Homo sapiens: one gene and its partners. The protein of the gene in region 6 purifies or fractionates together with the protein of the main gene of each other region. This does not show direct contact. Each region holds a gene or a part of one and is shown on either strand. Other genes may lie near its edges. The genes, in order: PROS1, LRP11, SMPDL3B, PALM, FSTL1 and ZPBP2.

What was found.
Region 1: the proteins of ZPBP2 (region 6) and PROS1 purify together in Homo sapiens (affinity purification with mass spectrometry; 3 studies listed by BioGRID and IntAct, with this or other methods). This does not show direct contact.
Region 2: the proteins of ZPBP2 (region 6) and LRP11 purify together in Homo sapiens (affinity purification with mass spectrometry, with the first as the bait; one large-scale study listed by BioGRID). This does not show direct contact.
Region 3: the proteins of ZPBP2 (region 6) and SMPDL3B purify together in Homo sapiens (affinity purification with mass spectrometry; one large-scale study listed by BioGRID and IntAct). This does not show direct contact.
Region 4: the proteins of ZPBP2 (region 6) and PALM purify together in Homo sapiens (affinity purification with mass spectrometry; one large-scale study listed by BioGRID and IntAct). This does not show direct contact.
Region 5: the proteins of ZPBP2 (region 6) and FSTL1 purify together in Homo sapiens (affinity purification with mass spectrometry; one large-scale study listed by BioGRID and IntAct). This does not show direct contact.

The regions. Positions count from the first base shown.
Region 1 is NC_000003.12:93,883,397-93,886,896, reverse strand, and holds part of PROS1 (vitamin K-dependent protein S isoform 2 preproprotein), read left to right. Parts: intron 1-393; coding exon 394-561; intron 562-2,000; coding exon 2,001-2,169; intron 2,170-3,500. UniProt on the Homo sapiens protein: Anticoagulant plasma protein; it is a cofactor to activated protein C in the degradation of coagulation factors Va and VIIIa. It helps to prevent coagulation and stimulating fibrinolysis.
Region 2 is NC_000006.12:149,850,860-149,854,359, reverse strand, and holds part of LRP11 (low-density lipoprotein receptor-related protein 11 isoform 1 precursor), read left to right. Parts: intron 1-1,168; exon of another isoform or gene 1,169-1,199; coding exon 1,200-1,357; exon of another isoform or gene 1,358-1,376; intron 1,377-1,795; exon of another isoform or gene 1,796-1,946; intron 1,947-3,500.
Region 3 is NC_000001.11:27,945,000-27,948,499, reverse strand, and holds part of SMPDL3B (acid sphingomyelinase-like phosphodiesterase 3b isoform 1 precursor), read right to left. Parts: intron 3,269-3,500; coding exon 3,055-3,268; intron 1-3,054. UniProt on the Homo sapiens protein: Lipid-modulating phosphodiesterase. Active on the surface of macrophages and dendritic cells and strongly influences macrophage lipid composition and membrane fluidity. Acts as a negative regulator of Toll-like receptor signaling.
Region 4 is NC_000019.10:715,435-718,934, forward strand, and holds part of PALM (paralemmin-1), read left to right. Parts: intron 1-3,500. UniProt on the Homo sapiens protein: Involved in plasma membrane dynamics and cell process formation. Isoform 1 and isoform 2 are necessary for axonal and dendritic filopodia induction, for dendritic spine maturation and synapse formation in a palmitoylation-dependent manner.
Region 5 is NC_000003.12:120,402,493-120,405,992, forward strand, and holds part of FSTL1 (follistatin-related protein 1 precursor), read right to left. Parts: intron 2,480-3,500; coding exon 2,361-2,479; intron 863-2,360; coding exon 750-862; intron 427-749; coding exon 316-426; intron 1-315.
Region 6 is NC_000017.11:39,874,702-39,878,201, reverse strand, and holds the end of ZPBP2 (zona pellucida-binding protein 2 isoform 2 precursor), read right to left. Parts: intron 2,949-3,500; coding exon 2,768-2,948; intron 1,521-2,767; coding exon 1,393-1,520; 3' UTR 306-1,392; downstream 1-305.

The DNA of each region.
Region 1 (3,500 bases), on a different chromosome or scaffold from region 6:
TATTGATTCCATGTGCGTATTATCAGACAATTGCAAAATAAGGCCACTTAAATTTTTCCTAAGATAGAATGGCTCACTTAATTGTTAATTTTCTAGCAGCCTGGAATTGAAAGATATATAACTGGATGTTTAAGCTTAACAGAATAGTATTTTTTTTAACTTTAAAATATGGTATGCTTTTAATTTTTGATCGTGCTGCCACCCTAAATGCCTTTTTATCACATTTATCATAATTTGACATTCCAAATGAGTTGTAACAAATTAATAATTACATTAAAATGATTACTTTACAGAAGTATTTTATTGGAATAATAACATAAGTTTTAGATCCCAGTATTTCAAATGACATGTAGTAATACTTGGTTATTTGGTAATTTTTCTTTTTAATTGTAGGTGTCTGTGGAAGAATTAGAACATAGTATTAGCATTAAAATAGCTAAAGAAGCTGTGATGGATATAAATAAACCTGGACCCCTTTTTAAGCCGGAAAATGGATTGCTGGAAACCAAAGTATACTTTGCAGGATTCCCTCGGAAAGTGGAAAGTGAACTCATTAAACCGGTAATGATCCAAGCTTGTATCATTCATCATGGATGAGTTCCTTTTGTCTGTAATAGATTTGAATATGTGTGTTTCTGAGAATCAATAGAAGTTGTTTTGTTAAGCATACTAAGTGTGACAACTTGAAATGATCATGGAAAAATAACATTAGTAACCCTTGAAATTATATTAATGAAATAAAAAAATGACGTAGTGGTTTTGTGCCCATTTAAATCCCCAGCATAAATCATGAAGTGGATTTCTAAAATTCTCAAGTTAACACTTGAGAATGTTAACACTAATGTTAACATTAGTAATGTAATGTTCAGTGTTAACATCATGATAATCCATACTCAGTTGTTAAACATATAAATTCATATATTTAAGTCCAAAATTACACCATTTTGTAAAAGCCAGTCAAAGGACTTTCTCAAGTCTATTTTTAGGACTTAAATGCAAGAGCTAAAGAATAGCACATAAGGTGAAATTTATTGTTAAATATTTACTATCTTACATCCGTCTTTCATTCTCTGGAAATTCGTAGTTACTTTAACTTTTAAAAGATTTCCATTATATGATATTAAGCTTGAATTAATTAACCCATGTTGACATGAGTATACCTGTTGTTTGAAACTGAGAAATTAATACACTTTAAAAGTAAAATAAATTATTCAAAAAGTATCAATCATTTATGAAACGGTTATTACATGTCTTGAGCCTGGCAGGATACTTGATGGAGGCTAAAGAATGCAAACACTTTTGTGTCTGAAGAGACTTAGAGTCTGATTGGCAAGACAAACCCATATTATAAATGCCACTAAAGAAAAACAAGGCCAGGCGTGGTGGTTCACACCTGTAATCCCAGCAATTTGGGAGGCCGAGGCGGGTGGATCACCTGAGGTCAGGAGTTCAAGACCAGCCTGGCCAATGTAGCAAAACCCCATCTCTACTAAAAGTACAAAAATTAGCCAGGCGTGGTGGTGGGCACCTGTAATCCCAGCTACTCAGGAGGCTGAGGCAGGAGAATCGCTTGAACCAGGGAGGCAGAGGTTGCAGTGAGCCAAGATCCTGCCACTGCACTCCAGCAAGACTCCATCTCAATCAAACAAACAAAGAAGATAAACAAGACAACTTAGAGCCCAGGGCCACAGCTAGAAGCAAATATAGAACTTGAAAGCAGAAAAGTTACCACTGGATGATGTAGGAGAGGCAGGTGGGGCTTGAAGTGTTAAAAACCATTAAGATCCCACTGAGGGCTTGTGATAGTATGAGCTTGCTTGTACTGAAAAAGACTGTCCATCTGAAGAATACTTTGAAAAGAAAAACTTAAATAAAATTCAAAATATTTTCAACTATTATCAAAGAAAGGATTTTTTTTCTCTTAATGAAAACCTATACTCATAATCGAGCCACTGTTTAAGTTTAAAATGCACTCCTTGACTTGTATTTTAATTTGTTAGATTAACCCTCGTCTAGATGGATGTATACGAAGCTGGAATTTGATGAAGCAAGGAGCTTCTGGAATAAAGGAAATTATTCAAGAAAAACAAAATAAGCATTGCCTGGTTACTGTGGAGAAGGGCTCCTACTATCCTGGTTCTGGAATTGCTCAATTTCACATAGATTATAGTAAGTGATTTTCCATTTATCTCTATTTTCTCATTAATGAGTAAATTTATTCATTAACAAACAGTAATAATTTATTTGTGAAACATTATTGAGTATCTACTGTGTGCCCACTCTAGTCTTATGCTTATTCATACTATTATATACCTTTTACAAAAATTTTTCAGTGTATTGGGAAAAATATAAAGGCATTTGAATGTGCTTGTGTTGTTATTTCAGGTTTATCAGTACATAGCCTGATTCCTTATGGGTAAATTCAATTGACCTATTTTAAAGTTCACTGATTTCTCACTTGTATGGAGTCTATCAATGAATGCATCAGAAAGATTCATCTTCATTTCTAGCATTTCTATTTGATGCTTTCTTAAAATTTCTACCTCCCTGTTGAAATTCCCTATCTGTTCACACTTGTCTAGTTTATGTACTGAGTTTTCAATGTATTCATCATAATTATTTTAAATTCCCTGTCTCGTAGTTCCAACTGTGTCATATCTGAGTCTCGTCATTTTGTTTGCTTTGTCCCTTGACCAAGTGTTGTTTTTCTTGCATCTTTGTGTACCATGTAATTTTTGGTTTAGATTTGGGCATCTTACGTATAACAGTAGAGACTGAGATAAAGAATATTTGTGTCTGGAAATGAGCACATTTCTTTTGCTAGGCTCTTAGTAATGGGATTGAATCAATCTAGTGAAAAGTTGAGCTTCTTAAGTTTTGTTGGTGCCAGGATTACCCTTAATGCACCACAGGTTTCAGATCTTTTATTTTGTTTTGTTTTGTTTTTGAGATGGAGTCTCACTTTGTCACCCAGGCTGGGGTGCAGTGATGCAATCTTGGCTCACTGCAACCTCTGCCACCTGGATTCAAGTGATTCTTCTGCCTCAGCCTCCTGAGTAGCTAGAACTACAGGCGCCCGCCACCACGCCCGGCTAATTTTTGTATTTTTGTGTTTTTGGCCAGGCTGGTTTTGAACTGCTGATCTCATGATCCACCCCCTTGGCCTCCCAAAGTGCTGGGATTACAGGTGTGAGCCACCGCACCCAGCCTCAGATTTTCAAAATACTACCTTCTGCTTAGAATAAGGGAATGGTTTGGTAGCTAGTTTTTCTTTTTCTTTTCTTTCTTTTTTTCTTTTTTTTTGAGACTGAGTCTCACTCTGTCACCCAGGCTGGAGCTCAGTGCCACAATCTCGGCTCACCGCAACCTCCACCTTGCAGGTTCAAGTGATTCTCATGCCTCAGCCTCCTGAGTAGCTGGAATTACAAGGGTGCGCCACCATGCCCTGCTAATTTTTGTATTTTTGACGAGGTTTTGCCATGTTGGCCAGGCTGGTTTCA
Region 2 (3,500 bases), on a different chromosome or scaffold from region 6:
TGAGGTGGGAGGATCACTTGAGGTCAGGAGTTCAAGACCAGCCTGGGCAACTCTCACTACAAAAGAGTGAAAATAGGTGGGAAGGTTAGCACACACCTGCAGTCCTAACTACTCGGGAGGCTAAGGCAGGAGGATCACTTGAGCCCAGGAGTTGGAGGCTACAGTGAGTGAGCTATGATCGTGCACCAGCCTGGGTGATAGAGACCCTGTCTCAAAAGCAAAACAAAACAAAAACAAAGGTAAATACAGATTTATTTTGCTGTTGTAGTCATCTGAGCCTGCTGGCTTCTATTATAAAAATTAGTTATTAGAAACGGTGAACGTCTTCAATTTTCCTAGATGAAAAATTGGATTCCAGAGAATTTACATGCAGGCTTTATTTTGTATGGCTCTAAAAATTTGCCTTAACTTTTCAAACTTAATATATTTCCCATTCATTGAATACTTTATATCACTCCTATTTTTAAAACTTGAGGATAAGAAAAAAAGAAAATCCATATTAGAGGTGAATTTGGTGTTTTTCAGGTTTGTTTTAATAATCTTTTCAAGGCCAGGCGCAGTGGCTCACGCTGCTAATCCCAGCACTTTGAGAGGCCGAGGCAGATGGATCACCTGAGGCCAGGAGTTCGAGACCAGCCTGGCCAACATGGCAAAACCCTGTGTCTACTAAAAATACAAAAAACAATTAGCAGGATGTGGTGGCACACACATGTAATCCCAGCTACTCGGGCGGTTGAGGCAGAAGAACCGCTTGAACCCGGGAGGGAGAGGCTGCAGTGAGCCGAGGCTGCACCATTGCACTCCAGCCTGGGTGACAAGAGCAAAACTCCATCTCAAAATAATAATAATCTTTTAAAATAAATTTATTTAACAGTATTTTGAACTTAAGTGATTTTAAAATTAAGTGAAAAATCCACTCTAGAAAATAAAACTGCTTCTCCATATTTACACATTGGTGGGACCTCGTATGCTGCCTTGTACCCAAAATCGCTACCAGCCAACACTCCACACAGCCTCTTCTGCGCATATTATAGCTAAATTCCACGATCATAAAATAAATAGAAAAATAATTTCCATTTAATATGGATTCTCTTAGCAGTTATTTGCCGAATCATATCTATTCAGCAAACAAGATACCTCTCCATAAATTAGAAAAAATAAGAAATCATCTTTTATGAATTATTTATTTTCTTTCTCAGAAAAGGATGCGCCTCCACTTAGCAAGGCTGGGCAGGATGTGGTTCTGCATCTGCCCACAGACGGGGTGGTTCTAGACGGCCGCGAGAGCACAGATGACCACGCCATCGTCCAGTATGAGTGGGCACTGCTGCAGGGGGACCCGTCAGTGGACATGAAGGTAACGCATGTTGTCACTGCTAACAAAAACGAGTATTTCAGTGAAGTGGTCTTTTGTAATGTCCTGCCACTTCATGCTCCCTAAATGTCTGTACGCTAGCAGAAGGCATAAAATGGAGACTGTATAAAACTGATTATGCCAAAATGGTTTATTATCTCAATGTGCTTTTCTGCTGAGAGTGAGCAGCAATCTCGATCATTTGTCTTGGAGCCTACCCTCCTTCTAGCTGCTGTTTGTGACTTGTCTAGAGGACAAAGACACTTCAAGGAAGAAGGCTCATGCTTTGTTTTAATGACTCAGATTACTTTTTTAAAGTTCTATTTCTTTTTCTGAGCTCAAGATCCAGGTAGAAAATTTGAAACTACAAAGGAGTCTAAAGAGGACAATAACAATAGGATGAACTTATCCTTCACATGAGCCGGAAAGTAGACAGCTTACCTGGCAGCTAGGTCTGCTGGGGCACACCGAGCCTGTGAGGGAGGGAGGCCAGCATGCGGTGCTCCTGCCCGGGGCTCCTGCCCGGGGCTCCTGGGATAGCCGCCGATGGAAATCAGCCATGTGGCTGGTGGCTGCCTATGCTCAGGAAGTCTTGGGTGGTGAGACAAGTGGCTTTTTATTCACCCTCTCAGGGTGGATTCCTGGCTTAGGCAAATAAGCACTTCCTGGCTTAGGCAGATAAACTGCATCCAAACCACTTCAGTTAGAGGAAGTGGAGAAAGAGGGTGAGGTAAGGAGGCACTGATTTGTACTCTACTGGAACCAAAACAAAAACAAATCTGGAAGTCCCTCATCACTGGTTTAAGTAAGAGTGATTTTACTCCCTGATTATATTGCATTAGAATTGGACTCACCCTCGTCCAGTATGGTTTGCCTTTGTCCCCACCCAAAAATCTCATCTTGAATTGTAATCCCCATAATCTCCACGTGTCAAGGGAGAGACCAGGTGGAGGTTACTGAATTATGGAGGCAGTCACCCCCATGCTATTCTCATGATAGTGAGTGAGTTCTCGCAAGATCTGCTGGTTTTATAAGTATTTGGTTGTTTCTCCTGCCACCTTGTGAAGAAGGTGCCTTGCTTCCCCTTTGCCTTCTGCGGTGATTATACTAGTAAGTTTCCTGAGGCCTCCCCAGCCATGTGGAACTATGAGTCAATTAAACCTCTTTCCTTTGTAAATTACCCAGTTTCGGGCAGTTCTTTGTAGCAGTGTGAGAATGGACTAATACACCCAGCATCCTTCCCAGCCTCTCCTCCAAACAAGAGTGCCTTCCACAACACCCCTTCCAAGGCTCATCTGCCATCTGTCTGACTTTTCCAAGGGCAGAAGCTCACTACTTCACATCATGTCCATGACATTACTCATCACTGTGTTGGGCAAGCAGGCTACGCCTCCCCTTACTTCTGTGCATTGGTGTTGGGTCTTCCCTTTGGAAAAACACTGAACTCATCTTTTTATCCTGTGTAAAAGCTTTGGAAGTCTTTGAAAAAAAGAAAGAAAGAAAGAAAGAACATCACCAATTGGTATGCTGTTCTCAGAACTCAGCACCCCACAGTTTGTCAGATGTTCCTCATATGAATTGATTTTTCAGGCCCGCCACTATCCTGCCTTGTCTGGATTTTCTCATATTAATCCATACCCTTCTTAACATCTAATACCCCTAATTGAACCCCATATTTAAGCTTTGGTTTTCTGACTCATTCATTACCTACTGTGATCCAGATATTGCCTCTCCTTCTATTAATGAGCTTCGTTACATGAACTGTGTCAGTAGCTGCATCACACAGTGGGTTCGTGCTGCATTTTTCTTGCCTTCAAGAGGAAACTCTGAACCAGTTCCCAATCGTGTATAACAGTGACGGCAGGTAGACCTCAAGTTATGAAGCCATCATCTAAATGACAGGGCCTGTACTAGGGGAAACATCTGTTACCAATTTGTGACTGTCTTAGAATGATATACATTCATGAATGTCACCCAAAGTTAACACTCATCCTGCTGAGACTTCATCATAATCAAAGCCCCCACGGATTGAGCACCCACTGAGTGCCAGGCAGCTTAGAGAGATCTGTAATCCACTGGACACCCTCACTTGTAGGCACATCCCCATTTGGTGGATGAAGACTGTCAGGAAACATTGTGGAAGACT
Region 3 (3,500 bases), on a different chromosome or scaffold from region 6:
CAAAATTCTTGGGTCCACCTTAGAAATGCTTGGCAAGGGGAGGAGAATGGTGGCAGGTGGAGTGTAGGGATGGGGAGACGTCCGGACAGTCAAAATCCTGGGGCCTCTGCTGCCCAGGTATTCCCCCAGGGAAACTAATTAGCATAATAGTATTAATACTGCTGCTAGAAGCTCACACCGGCTGACTTTCTGCCAGGCACTTTCTGTGTGTTGTTGCCACAGCCACTAATTTTTTCCCCATTATAACACTGCAATGTAAATTCTATTATTAGTTTAGGCCCGTTTGACAGATAAAGAAACCAAGACACAGAAAAGTTAAGAATTTTGCCTATCCTAAATCAAGCACCAGAGACACGGGGGAAAAATTGTACCTAAGTGTACACCACTAGAAAGTGGTGGGGCCAAGATTTGAGCCCAGTCAGCCTGGCCCCAGAGTCTATGCTCACAGCCACTGCATCCTATAGTGTCTCTGATACCCACATTAGGGCAGCAAGAGGGGCTGTTTTGCCCTGAAAACTCCCTGGGGACAGGCCGGAAACCCAAAGACACAGGGACAAAATTTCATATTTTTAATTTCTAGGTTAGAGAATCTAATTCTGTCTGATAAAAAACACACCTAGGCCGGGGGCGGTGACTCACGCCTGTAATCCCAGCACTTGGGGAGGCCGAGGCAGGCGGATCATAAGGTCAGGAGTTCGAGACCAGCCAGGCCAATATGGTGAAACCCTGTCTCTACTAAAAATACAAAAATTAGCCAGGCGTGGTAGGGGGCACCAGTGAGCCGAGATCGCACCACTGCACTCCAGCCTGGGCGACAGAGCGAGACTCCATCTTAAAAAAAAAAAACAAAAAAACACCTAATTTCTTTTTTTTTTTTTTTTTGAGATGGAGTCTCGCTCTGTCACCCAGGCTGGAGTGCAGTGGCGCAATTTCGGCTCACTGCAACCTCCGTCTCCCAGGTTCAAGCGATTCTCCTGCCTCAGCCTCCTGAGTAGTAAAACATACCTAATTTCTAATGGCCATCCTCAAAGGGACTGCAGCTCTCTTAGAAGTCAAATTTTATTATAATTGAAGAATTGTAAAGGGTCCTAGAGATCTTCTCATCTGATGCTGTGTACCTCTTCAAGGTCTCAGAGATTTCCCAGGAAAAAAAGGTGCAACTGTGGCCGGGTGCAGTGGCTCACGCCTGCAATCCCAGCACTTTGGGAGGCTGAGGCGGGCAGATCACCTGAGGTCGGGAGTTTGAGACCACTCTCACCAACATGGAGAAACCTTGTCTCTAATAAAAATACAAAATTAGCCGGGCGTGGTGGCGCATGCCTGTAATCCCAGCTACTCGGGAGGCTGAGGCAGGAGAATCGCTTGAACCCAGGAGGCGGAGATTGTGGTGAGCCAAGATCACGCCATTGCACTCCAGCCTGGGCAAAAAGAGCGAAACTCCATCTCAAAAAAAAAAAAAAATGTGCATCTGTTAAAGGATCATGAATTTCCTGAGGGATCCCATCTGTCTGAATGCTACACATGCTCTCCCTTCTCGGAGAAATCAGAAGCTCCCCTCAAGGGAGCAGGCCCAAGGTCATGGACCAAATCTCACTCTCTTCTTAGATTGATTCCTGAGCCCAAGGAAGCCAGAGCTGTCCAGGCCCCTCCTGAGACAATGTCACATGTCTTCTTATGTGTCCAGCCTGGCAGGTTCATCTGAGGGTCCTTCCTGGTCACACCCACAAACCACATCACAGCTAGGGGCATCATGGGTTTCACCCTGCCTTATAGAAGTGTCCACTGAGGCTGGTAGAGGGAGCGCAAAGTCAGAATTCCTTCCAGCCTTCCTCGAGAGCTCCCCTGCTCCACCACCTCCTGCAGGATGTCCTTCCCCTAATCCTGCCAGATGGGATCATGTGCCCTGTGAAGTTCCCACATCCCCCCAGGTGACTCTCTCTCCTTGCTTGGATGTAAGGGTAGGGTCAATGGGTTTGTCTGCATTGCCCACAAGAACGTGAGCTCCTTGGAGCCAAGTGTGGGTGTCCATCATCTCAGATCCCTAGCATCTACCCCACAACTGAGCACGACTTGTTGCCCTGCCAAGTGAGGGAGCAAGCGAGGAGATGGGGGTATCTTTTTTTCTTTTTCTTTCTTTTTTTTTTTTGAGACAGAGTCTTGCTGTGTCACTCAGGCTGGGAGTGTAGTGGTGTGATCTTGGCTCACTGCAACCTCTACCTCCCAAATGCAAGCGATTCTCCTGCCTCAGCCTCCCGAGTAGCTGGAACCACAGGCGTGCACTACCACGCCAGGCTAATTTTTGTATTTTTAGTAGAGACGGGGTTTCACCATGTTGGCCAGGATGGTCTCAAACTCCTGACCTCAGGTGATCCACTGCCTCGGCCTCCCAAAGTGCTGGAATTACAAGCATGAGCCACTATACCCAGCCGGAATGGGGGAATCTTGAATGATAAGGAGGCAAGTTCCCAGGAAAGTTGAAGGAATTAGAGCAGCAACCTTGGACAGGAAGCAGAAACTGGGTCTCTGCGGCTGAGTGGGATCGGCCCTCAAGCTGTCACTCTGTAGAGCAGAGCTCTGACTGGTGAGAAAATCCAGGACCACTGGGCAGCCCAGGGGTGGCCAGCAGCTGGCCAGGACACTAGGACCCCAGGCTGGGCCACCTTCAGCCCTCATAACTTCTTCCCTCCCTGCACTTGGACCTCTCAGACTTAGAGTCCCTAAGCCCCAGGGGAAATGGCTCCAGTGTCCACCCATAGCTTAAAACCTGGACACTCTCCGGGTGCCCAGGCATGCCAGGACCACGTCCAAAAGCCTGATTGAGAGCTGCGTTCTGCCACAGCCAGGAGACATGGAGGTCGAGGACACAGACTGTGGAATCAGTTGGACTCAGGAATCCCCGGGCAAGTTACAAAATTCCTTTGAGCTTTAGGTTCCTCAGCCTCACGTGAGACTGATGTGAGGATTAAGGGAGATAATGTGGGCAAAGGGCCAGACTGGTATGTAGCACATAGCAGATGCCTGGCAAAGGGTAGCTGCCACCTCAACTGTACTCACCCAGTCCAGAGAATGAAGTCTGGCTCTGGCTCAATCTCCTTCATGGCATAGATGGAGGAGTTGATGAGGGCCCAGGGAGAATCACAGAGGTAGTCACCCCAGGGGCCTGCGTCGGGCACTGGCTGGGATCCAGCTGATGGGCACACCTGGAAGGGGTCTTTGGATACCTTGTAGTCAGGGTCAAGGTGCAGGTCAGCGATGTGCCAGAACTTCCCTGCAGGGGAAAAAACATCCTCCTTCAAAGCTGGTCTCTCTCTCAGCCTGGAAGCAAGGAAGTCCAGGGGAGCCCTGGGCTGGGGCAGGGGCGTTACACAGGCAAATGGAAGTCTTCTCTGAGCACCCCGGGTTCAGAGAAAAGGCCCACAGGCCTGGCTCTGCCCAGGGACACATTGAGCAGAGCACAGAACAGGCTCAGCTCCATCCCTGAGCGCTGACCTTTGGCAAGG
Region 4 (3,500 bases), on a different chromosome or scaffold from region 6:
GCATCTTCTCTGAGGTGTGAGAAAGGCTTCCTCATCCAGTCCATCATGAACCTTTTCTGAGAAGGATGTTTCAGGGTTCATCCAGGCAGGCAGAAGGATGCACCTTGTGGAAGGACTGGCATGTGCAAAGGGCTAGAGGTGGGAAAGCATTGGAAGAAGAGAATGCTCTTTGGTGTTTGTTCCTGCTAGGCCTTGAGTGCCAGGATGGGGAGTCATGGATAGTGTGTGAGCAGGGGAGGAGCAGTGGCTGACCTGGTCATCAAAAAAGGCGCTGGCAGCTGAGGAGTGAGCCCAGGGAGGAGCAAGTCATGGCCAAGCCTTGATTGTGGCTGCAGGGGCAGCATGCAGAGAAATGGCAGAGCCAGAGGGGGCAGGACCCCACGTCTAGGAGGGCAAACACAGGATTCCAGAACTGCGTGTGGTCAGTGATGCCCACAGGGACGGGGCTCCCTGGCTGGGGAGAAGTAGCCTGGTCCCTGGATACATGAGGGGGTGGAGGGCGTCCTCTAGGAGGATGGCTGCGTGGACGTCTTGGTGTCTGAGGAGTGTAAAATCAGGCCAGAGTGGCTGTCTCCCGCCCCAGGGTTTCAAGCAGAAATTCAGGGACAGTCAGAGCCAGTCACCAGGACAGAGCCTGGACTGGGTGGGAAGAGGGAAGGGGAGCTAGGCCTTGGGATGGGGAAGACTTAGATTAGGGCTGGGCATGGTGGCTCACGCCTGTAATCCCAGCACTTTGGGAGGCCGAGGCGGGCAGATCACCTGAGTTCAGGAGTTCGAGACCAGCCTGGTCAACATGGTGAAACCCCCGTCTCTACCAAAAATACAAAAATTAGCCAGGCATGGTGGCAGGTGCCTGTAATCCCAGCTACTCGGGAGGCTGAGGCAGGAGAATCGCTTGAACCCAGGAGGAGGTTGCAGTGAGCCGAGATTGCGCCACTGCCCTCCAGCCTGGGTGACAGAGCGAGACTCTTTCTCTCAAAAAAAAAAAAAAAGAAAGTTTAGATTAGGACCAGAGTGAGGCCAGCTGAGTGGGAGGCGCTGCATGGTCAACAGACTGGTGGTGGGACAGGGCCAGGCCTGGGAGCCCCTCCTGGGTGGGCAGAGGCTGTGGGCAATGGAGGCAGAGATGCGGGACCCTGAAGGCCGGGGAGGGACAGAGGCCCAGGGTTCTTCAGTAACCCCTGTCAGGGAGCGAGAAGCTGATGTCCTCATCAGTTTGTATTCAAACGCTTCCAGCCATGGAAAGTCTCAGGGCAGGGCCAGCAGGGGTTTCAGCACTCCATGGGGGTTGGGAAGGACCCCAGCCCCTGGCCTGGCTCTTGTTGAGAAGGCTGGCATTCCCATTACACATGCACGTATACACACACGTACACAGGTATGTATACACACGTCTGTATGTATATCATTCTTAACAGCTTCATTAAAATACATTTCACACGCTACACAGTCTGGCTGCTTAAAGTGTACAGCTCAGGCGTTTTTAGTACACTGACAGGGTGTACTTTTTTTTTTTTTGAGACAGAGTCTCTCTGTCACATAGGCTGGAGTGCAGTGACGTAATCCCGGCTCACTGCAACCTCCGCCTCCCGGGTTCAAGTGGTTCTCCTGCCTCAGCCTCCTGAGCAGCGGAGATTACAGGCACGTGCCACCACGCCCGGCTAATTTTTGTGTTTTTAGTAGAGACGGGGTTTCACCATATTGACCAGGATGGTCTCAATCTCTTGACCTTGTGATCCACCTGCCTTGGCCTCCCAAAGTGCTGGGATTACAGGTGTGAGCCACCGCGCCCAGCAGAGTTGTGTATCTTTCACCACAATTGTAGAACATTTTCATCACCCCCAAAACAAGCCCTGTCCCCATTAGGCATCCCCTCCCGTCCCCCTCCCCCCAGCCCTCGGGGAGCCAGTCCCCTTCCTGTCTCTGGATCGGCAGGTCCTGGACATTTCGTAGACATGGGATCACACGCTGCGTGGCCTTCTGTGTCTGGCGTCTCTCACTGAGCGTGATGTCCTCAAGGTGCATCCGCGCCGTGGCCTGGGTCAGAGCCTCGCTCCTGTTCACGGCTGAGTCATGTCCCAGTGCGTGGACGGCCACATTGCGTTTACCCACACATCTGTGGATGGACACCCGGGTTGGTTTATCTGTGAATCTGTAGTTACCCCCCGAGATGGTTGGAGCTTGTGCTCTGTTCACACTGAGGAGTCCGGGTCCTACTTTACATAAGTGTAAGTCGTGACAGTGAGTTTCTTTAAAAAGAAGAGGCAGTGATCAGATGACAGGTGGCCCTGGGAGTGGCGGGAGTGTGAGAAGAGGGGGCCGGGATTGGGGGGACCTCTGGGTGGGGGCTTCCTCTGAAGATGGAAAGACCCTAATCGACTCCCTGGGGCAGCAAGCATTTATTGAGCACCTGCTGTATGCCTGGTGCCAGGGACATGGCAGGGACAAAAATGACACAGTTGCTGTCCTAGTGGGAAGACAAGATCACGCCTGTAATCCCAGCACTTTGGGAGGCTGAGGCGGGCGAACCACCTGAGGTCAGGAGTTCGAGACCAGCCTGGCCAACATGGTGAAACCCCGTCTCTACTAAAAATACGAAAATTAGCCGGGCGTGGTGGCATGTGCCTGTAATCCCAGCTACTCAGGAGGCTGAGGCAGGAGAATCACTTGAACCCAGGAGGCGGAGGTTGCAGCGAGCCGAGATCGCGCCACCGCACTCCAGCCTGGGCAACAGAGGGAGACTCCATCTCAAAAAAAAAGAAAAGAAAAAGATAAGTAAAGTGATCCGGGTGGTGACAGCTGCAGGGGTGCCTGGGGCTGAAAATTAGGACAGAAGAGGCCTAAATGAGGAGGTGACGTCTGCAGAAAGGCCTTGGGCCTGAGGCCCGGGGAGGTCTGGGTGACCGTGCACCAGGCAGCAATGCAGCCAGCACAATGGCCCTGCAGTGGGAGCTCTGTGGGACGTCTCAGGAGTGTGGCTGGAGTGCAGTCGCGTGGGGAGGGACCATGGGGCCTCTGCAGCAGGGTTTGCCCTGAGACCCTGCTGAAAGCCAGGGAAGGCCCCGTTCACGCCTCACTGCCCCGTCTTCCCCTGAGGGCCCGGGCAGGGTCCCTTCCCACCCCAGGTTAATAGGCAACAGGTTTGCTTCTCTGCATCTGTGGCCTGCTTTGACCTCCGTCTTCTCCTCTCCCCCGGGGTGATGCCTCTCTGCCGTAACCCGTTTAGGGTTCTCGGTGCCCCAGAGACTGGGATGGCCCTGGGGGCCTCCGTGCTGCATCCTGGGAGGGCTGGGAGGAGGTTCCTTCCTGGAAGGCTGCCTGGAGGAGGTGGCTGTGCTTGAGCTGATCTTGGCGGTGGAGAAGGGAAAGGGGAAGCTGGGAGCTGATGAAGGGTGAGGGGCTGACATTGGGGCTTGGACTCCGGGGCTTGGAGCAGGGCAGGGCGGTGGAGGAAGCAGGGCCGGGGGTGCCAGCGCTCAGGGGAGACACAGGCTCTGAGGACC
Region 5 (3,500 bases), on a different chromosome or scaffold from region 6:
ATTCCATTATTACTACTTTCACTGTTACTATTTCCATAATGTTACTATTCCATTATCATTTACTTTTGCCCAGGGTCTTGGTCCTCTCTTATTCCAAGCCTCTGGAGTGATTTTCAAACTGAATGCCTATGGGATAAATGTTCTGCCCTCAAAGCTCCCCACTTGGGGCTCCAACCTTACAGGTGTGGGTCTGCCTGGGTTCCTTGCTCCCAGCCACCGCCCTCTTCTCCATCATCCCCACCCCAACTTCTCTCATGCTGATTTCATGAAGCTCTCTCCTTGCTGTTTTTTCTTTCTGCTTGAAGCACAGCTCACCGTCACAGGTCATGGCTGTACAGACCCAATTTCCACAGGCACAGACACAGCGGTTACAGTCCACCTCGGTCTCAGCTCCATCTGCATACGTTTCATCCTCCAGGGCACACTCTGTTGGGCCAGAAATACGGGGCAACAGTTTAGCTGTGAGGGTGGAACAGGGCATCTTTGCTACAGTCTGTGCACCTTACCCTTTTTTCCCAGACAAGACCTGCCTGTCCCTCAGAAGCACTATATCTGAGCAAACACTACCATCAACCTAAAGAATGTGGGGCCCTAACTTCACCATGGGGAGAATGGGCTGGGGCCCAGTTTAGAATCATGGAAGGGGATTTTCTCAGCTAGCTCTGGAGAGTTCCACCAATCCTCTCTATCTTGGCTCCTACAAAATGCCTCCATTCACTACAGCTCTCTATTTCTTAGGTTAGGCATACTCTTCTCAGGAGGGTTGAAAGATGGGTTGAGGCACTTGAGAAACTCTTGGAAGCTGAGTTTCCAATCAGCATTTTCATCAGACAGTTCAATGAGAGCATCAACACAGAGTCCCCTGAAACAAAACACAGGAGAAATGTGTTAGCAAGACCTCAGCTTCGCTCAGAAGAAAGGAAGTAAGCATCAGGACCACATACACCCAGGGCCTCCACAGGAGGCCAAGAAGATGACTGCTAACTAAAACAGCCTCTCTCTACACTGACCCAACACAACTATTATCCATCCTGACCAATGCAGGCATCTAACCTTTAGTTTGTTATATGAATGTCAGATCACCCAGGCTGTCCAAATGTTCCCCCCCTTAAGATGACTAAAGTTTCGTGAATGGTTTTGTCTAATGTTTTCACTGCCTGCATACCTTCCACTAGCAATTGCTTTTCCCCATGGTATATACACGTCAAGTCAACCAAACTAGGAAAATCAAAACAGAAGAGATATGACAGATGACATGAAAGGAATATAGGATTTGAAAGAATATGAAGTTCAAGCAAGAATCACCATTATCATCCTTCTAGAAAGAGATTTTCAGAAAAGCTTTTAGAACTCAGCTCCATCAGCTTGCAGTGAGCCGAGATCCCGCCACTGCACTCCAGCCTGGGCGACAGAGCGAGACTCCGTCTCAAAAAAAAAAAAAAAAAAAAAAAACAAAAACAAAACAAAACAAAAACAAAAACAAAAAAAAACAAAAAACAAAACAAACAAAAAAAAACTCAGCTCCATCACTTCTTTCTTGGGCTGTATTTGAGCCCTGGCTCAATCACTTACTACTCAAATGGACTTGAGTTAGTTATTCAACTTTTCTGAGCCTGTCTTCCCATCCGTAAAAGGAGGACAAGAAGCCCTCCTTCACTGGGATATCATGAGGCTCAAACGTTGAAATTATAAAACATATAATTTCAGATTATCAAAATATGAAGGATTTACAGAACCTATACTTTAAGGTCATAGACTATTATTAAAGAAGAATCCTTCTAGAAACTGTGCAATGCACTTCTTTTGAAAAAAAGACATGCTTTTCCTATTTTTAATTCTTACCGATGTGCTGAAACCACATCAAAAGTTTCTTAGCGATTAGTTTTTATTAATATTGATTCTGGAATAATGCCATAAAAGTAGACGGGCATATATCTGTAACAGTTAGGGCAATTGACATGAAATAGCACTAATTATCTAAAAATCAGAACAAAGCTATTTTAGACCTATAGTTAAATAATACATTACTGTAATTCCTTCAGAAAATTAATCAGTAAAACATCACCCACAACATTCAGAAATAACTTGCTCTGACGTGCCCTTGGCAATTTATTTTAAAATTATATTCTTCTAGTCCTTGCAAGTTCTGACCAAAAACAATAACTATTTGATTAGATATCAGTGGTACTCAATATATTAATTCATACTTTCATAGAATAGAACAGGACAGAATTCCCATTTTGCTTTTTACGTGACATTCTCTCACTGGTGGCTCTTTTGCAGGTGGGAAAGGGTTTAAGTCCCCTCTCTCAGTTAGTCTTCCCTTGTGGATCATTCTCTGACCTCTCGGTTCCTCTCACCTAAGCAACTTGTTGTTCTCCTGGTCTGGATACGTTGTAATATTGATGGCAGTTTCATTCTGTTCCACAAACTTCAGGAATTCACTGGAGTCCAGGCGAGAATCACCATTATCAAAGTTCTAGAAAGGGCATGACAAGATCGTTCAGGGATGTTTTGCAGAACCCCTGTTCCATCATTACTCCACTCAGCTGACCTGCCTCTGATTCATCTTGTTCTTGATACATTCCAACCCTGCCCTGACCTCAGAGGGCCTTGGCAACAAATGCTCTAATCCCTGGGACATGCAGAGAAGGTACCTGTGCCCACAATGAGAGAGGAAAAGTGCCTGGGCAGAGGAGGCAACCTGAACTGAGGCCTCTGGGGTCCCTAAGCATGCTGTGTGGCCCCATCTCTGACACTGCCCTGTAGACACTTTTGACTATACCTTTGGGTTCAGACCAACCTGCACATCATGTTCTCAAGCCCTGATGAACATGTAACAAGAGTTTAAAGTTGCACGCTGTGAATCAGAATCTCTGTAGCAGGTCCCAGAATATGTTTCTAATGAGCTGCTCAGGAACAGCAGCAATGCAGATGACCCTCTGAGCTCACTTTGGAATTATAGGATTCCAAATCTTGTTGCTTGATTCCAGCCTCCTTGTCCTGTTCTCAGTGCTTAACTTTCACTTTGGTGCCCGTAACTGATCACATCAGTGAGAACTCAGGCAAAGGCCTCAAAGCAATAAGCTACAGACAGGGGTCATCATGCAAAGTTCCCGCTCCTCTGCCCTGTGGGCCCCACTGCAGATGTGTGCACAGGTCCTCAGATCATCCAGCTCAGGCTGCCCTCATGACCCAGCTGGCATCCCACAAGCACAAAGTGAGGAGTGCAGTAAGCTCACACACTGTTCTCTATGGCAAGATGCTAAACTGAGACCTCAGCCATCTGGGACCATTCAAGACACCCAGGCACTAGCTGCAGGAGGAGGGTGTCAAATCAAGACTGATCAAATTCCAAGTTGCATATGGCTGCTCTCCTAACAAATTTCAATAACATTTTCCCCCTTCCTCCCAAATCCTTTCCCTAGGCTCCCTCATGCTGCTGCCCTGGGAAAGGATCAGCTTCCCCATGTTACTTTCAAGATGGCTCCCCAGATGGT
Region 6 (3,500 bases):
CCATATGAAAAGATGTTCAACATCAGATGCCATTAGGGAATTGCAAATTAAAACAATAAAATACCACCATACACCTATTAGAATGGTCAAAATAAAAAAAAACTAACAATACCAAATGCTGGGAAAGATAAGGATAACAGGAATACTTTTTCATTTCTGGTGAATGCAAAACGGTAAGCCACTTTGGGAGACAGTATGGCAGTTTCTCATAAAACTACACATAGTCACACTCCGGCAGTCATATTCCTAGGTTATTTACACAATTGGGTTGAAAACTTATGTTCATACAAAAACCTGCACACAAATGTTTATAGCGGCTTTATTTTTAATCACTGAAAACTGGAAGCAATCAAGATTTCCTTTAATGGGCGAATGGATAAACATACTATGCTATATCCATACAATGAACATTATTCAGCAATAAAAAATGAGCTATCAAGTCACAAAAAGACATGGAGGAACCTTAAATGCATATTGCTAAGTGAAAGAAGCCAGTCTAAAAAGTCTACATACTGCATAACTCCAACCAACTACATGACATTTTGGAAAAGGCAAAACTGTAGAGACAGTAAAAAGATCAGTGGTTGCCAGGGCACGGCGGGAGGGATAAATAAGTGAAGCACAGGATTTTGAGGGTGGTGAAACTATTCTGTATGAGACTGCAATGGTGCACACATGCCATTATGAATTTGTCAAAACCCACATAACCTTACAACACAATGAATCTTAATGTGAACTATGGGCTATAATTAATAATAAATTAATATTGGTTCATCATTTGTAACAAATGTGCCACACTAATGCACCATCTTAATAATAGGAGAAATTGTGTAAGGAGGAATGAGGGTATGGGGTGCAGTGGGTGTATGGAACTCTATATATTATCTGCTCTATTATTCTGTAAACCTAAACCTATACTTTAAAAAATACAGTATATTAATTTATCTTAAAAAATAAAATCATAGGGACCAAAATAAATAACTTTTTTGGTTCTAATACAAAGATAATATACACGCCTTTATATCACACAAGAGTGATTCCAAACAAATAAATATATGGAGAGTATACAATTTTTATTTTATTATACTTTGATACTCTTCTTGACCTTACTATACTCTTAGGTACACAGCAACATACCGTTTGTAAACAATAAAACATTTCATTAAAAATAATCCATTAAAACTTCAAGTTTCCTTTGTACACTAGAGATACTGGATTAAATGCCTTCTTAGAAATGCCATGTTAACCATTTATTTTAAAGTTTCCAAAATGCATGTTTTCCAGTGGTTTGGTCTTACTGATTTTACTTAATGGAACTATCTATGATGCTCTGGGATGTGAAAATCATCTTATGTCCCCGACTTCCACAAGTAAGTAACAATGCTTTCACCTCTAATCTTCATATTGCTGATTTTTGTTTGAAGTTTGTGGGCAAGATTTAGCTCCATAGGTAAGGACGGAAACGCAGGTCTGACAAGTTACATTAACATCAGGACTAAAAGTCGCAGGACTACAAACCACTGCAGAGGAAAACACAGGGAGTAATTATAATTTAGAGATATTTTATGCCTCTACTACTTGGAGGTATTCTATACCAACAATATAAATCTGCCTTTAATATCATACCATTTCAGTACCTATATTATACCAGGTAATGTTCAGCCCATTTAAGTTGTGGAAGATTATGTGAGTTTCAAACTTTATAATTTGATGATCTTAAAGATAGGAGAAAGTGAGAATCCTATTTTTTCTTTTACTATCAGCATTTTACAGTATCTTCTGCAGTGCCCCATTTATGAGTTCCTATTTCTAGTTTTCTAGTTCCTATTTCCTAGTTCTCTGCTTTCCAGGTAGGACCATTCTGTTTTCCTTCATTGTACAGTAGCTTAAGACAGAACATTATAGAAATGTTTATAATACAAGAGAGTACATCAGGAAGAGTTAATATACATTAAAATAACTATATTTAGAAATTTGGGCTTTGGCTGGGCGCAGTGGCTCATGCCTGTAATCCCAGCACTTTGGGAGGCCAAGGCGGGCAGATTGCTTGAGCCCAGGAATTCCAAGACCAGTCTGGGCAACAGGGCGAAACTCTGTCTCTACTAAAAATACAAAAATTAGTCAGTAAAAATACAAAAATTACAGATTGCACACCTGTAATCCTGGCTACTCAGGAGGCTGAGGTTGAAGGATGGTTTGAGCTTGGGAGGCAGAGTTGCCATAAGCTGAGACTGCGCCACACTGCACACTGCACTGCAGCCTGGGTAACAGAGCCAGACTCCATCTCAAAAAAAAAAAAAAAAAAAAAAAAAAAAAAAGGGGCCAAGCATGGTAGCCCACACCTATAATCCCAGCACTTTCGGAAGCCAAGGCAGACGGATCCTTTGAGGTCAGGAGTTCAGTCGAGACCAGCCTGGCCAACATGGTGAAACTCTGTCTCTACTTTTTACAAAAATTAGCCAGCTGTGGTAGCTACTGGGGAGGCTGAGGCAGAAGAATCACTTGAACCCTGGAGACGAAGGTTGTGGTGAGCTCAGATGACGCCACTGCACTCCAGCATGGGTGAAAGAGTGAGACTCTATCTCAAAAAAAACAAAAAAAAAAAAAATTGGGGCTTTGAATTTTTACTTCCTTTTAGCTAAATATATATATATTTTTTGGTAAGAGAATCACTGTAAAGATTCTATTCAGTTATGCCAAGTGAATTACTTATATATTCTTCTGACTCTATAACCTAAATGTTTAGATATTTATATTTTATAGTTACCACAACAGCTAGCGCAATTACTGTGTAGACGTTCATTTTTTCCAAAGCCTGGTCGACAGCTATCCAGACGTACTACTTGCAAACTGTGGTCCACAAAATGCATTGCTGGTAGAGTTTTATTAAAGTTATGGTAGAAAATATATGCTTGGCTCCGAAAAAAGTCTTCTATTCGATCTCTTGCCTAAGGTTGAAAAATACCAGAGAAAGGTACAATTACTAAACCATGAACCAAATTTATCCTCCAGTATCACAGGCAATAATGTACTGTAAGCATGCCATACTTAACGTAGATAAATTCCTGAAAAGGTGTGTGTTAACACCAAAATTAGTTAGCTTTGACCTTATCAACTGTTGTCAATTAATATGTGCAATGGTTAAGAAAAATTGGCTGGGAGCGGTGGCTCATGCCTGTAAACCCAGCACTTTGGGAGGCCAAGGCGGGCAGATCGCGAGGTCAAGAGTTCGAGACCATCCTGGCCAACATGGTAAAACTCCATCTCTATTAAAAATACAAAAATTAGCTAGGTGTGGTGGCATGTGCCTGTAGTCTCAGCTACTCAGGAGGCTGAGGCAGGAGAATTGCTTGAACCTCGGAGGCGGAGGTTGCAGTGAGCCGAGATCGTGCCACTGCACTCCAGCCTGGCGACAGAGCGAGACCCCGTCTCAGAAAAAATAAATAAATAAAAATTAAAATTAAGATTAGGCTGGGCGTGGTGGCTCACGCCTGTGATCC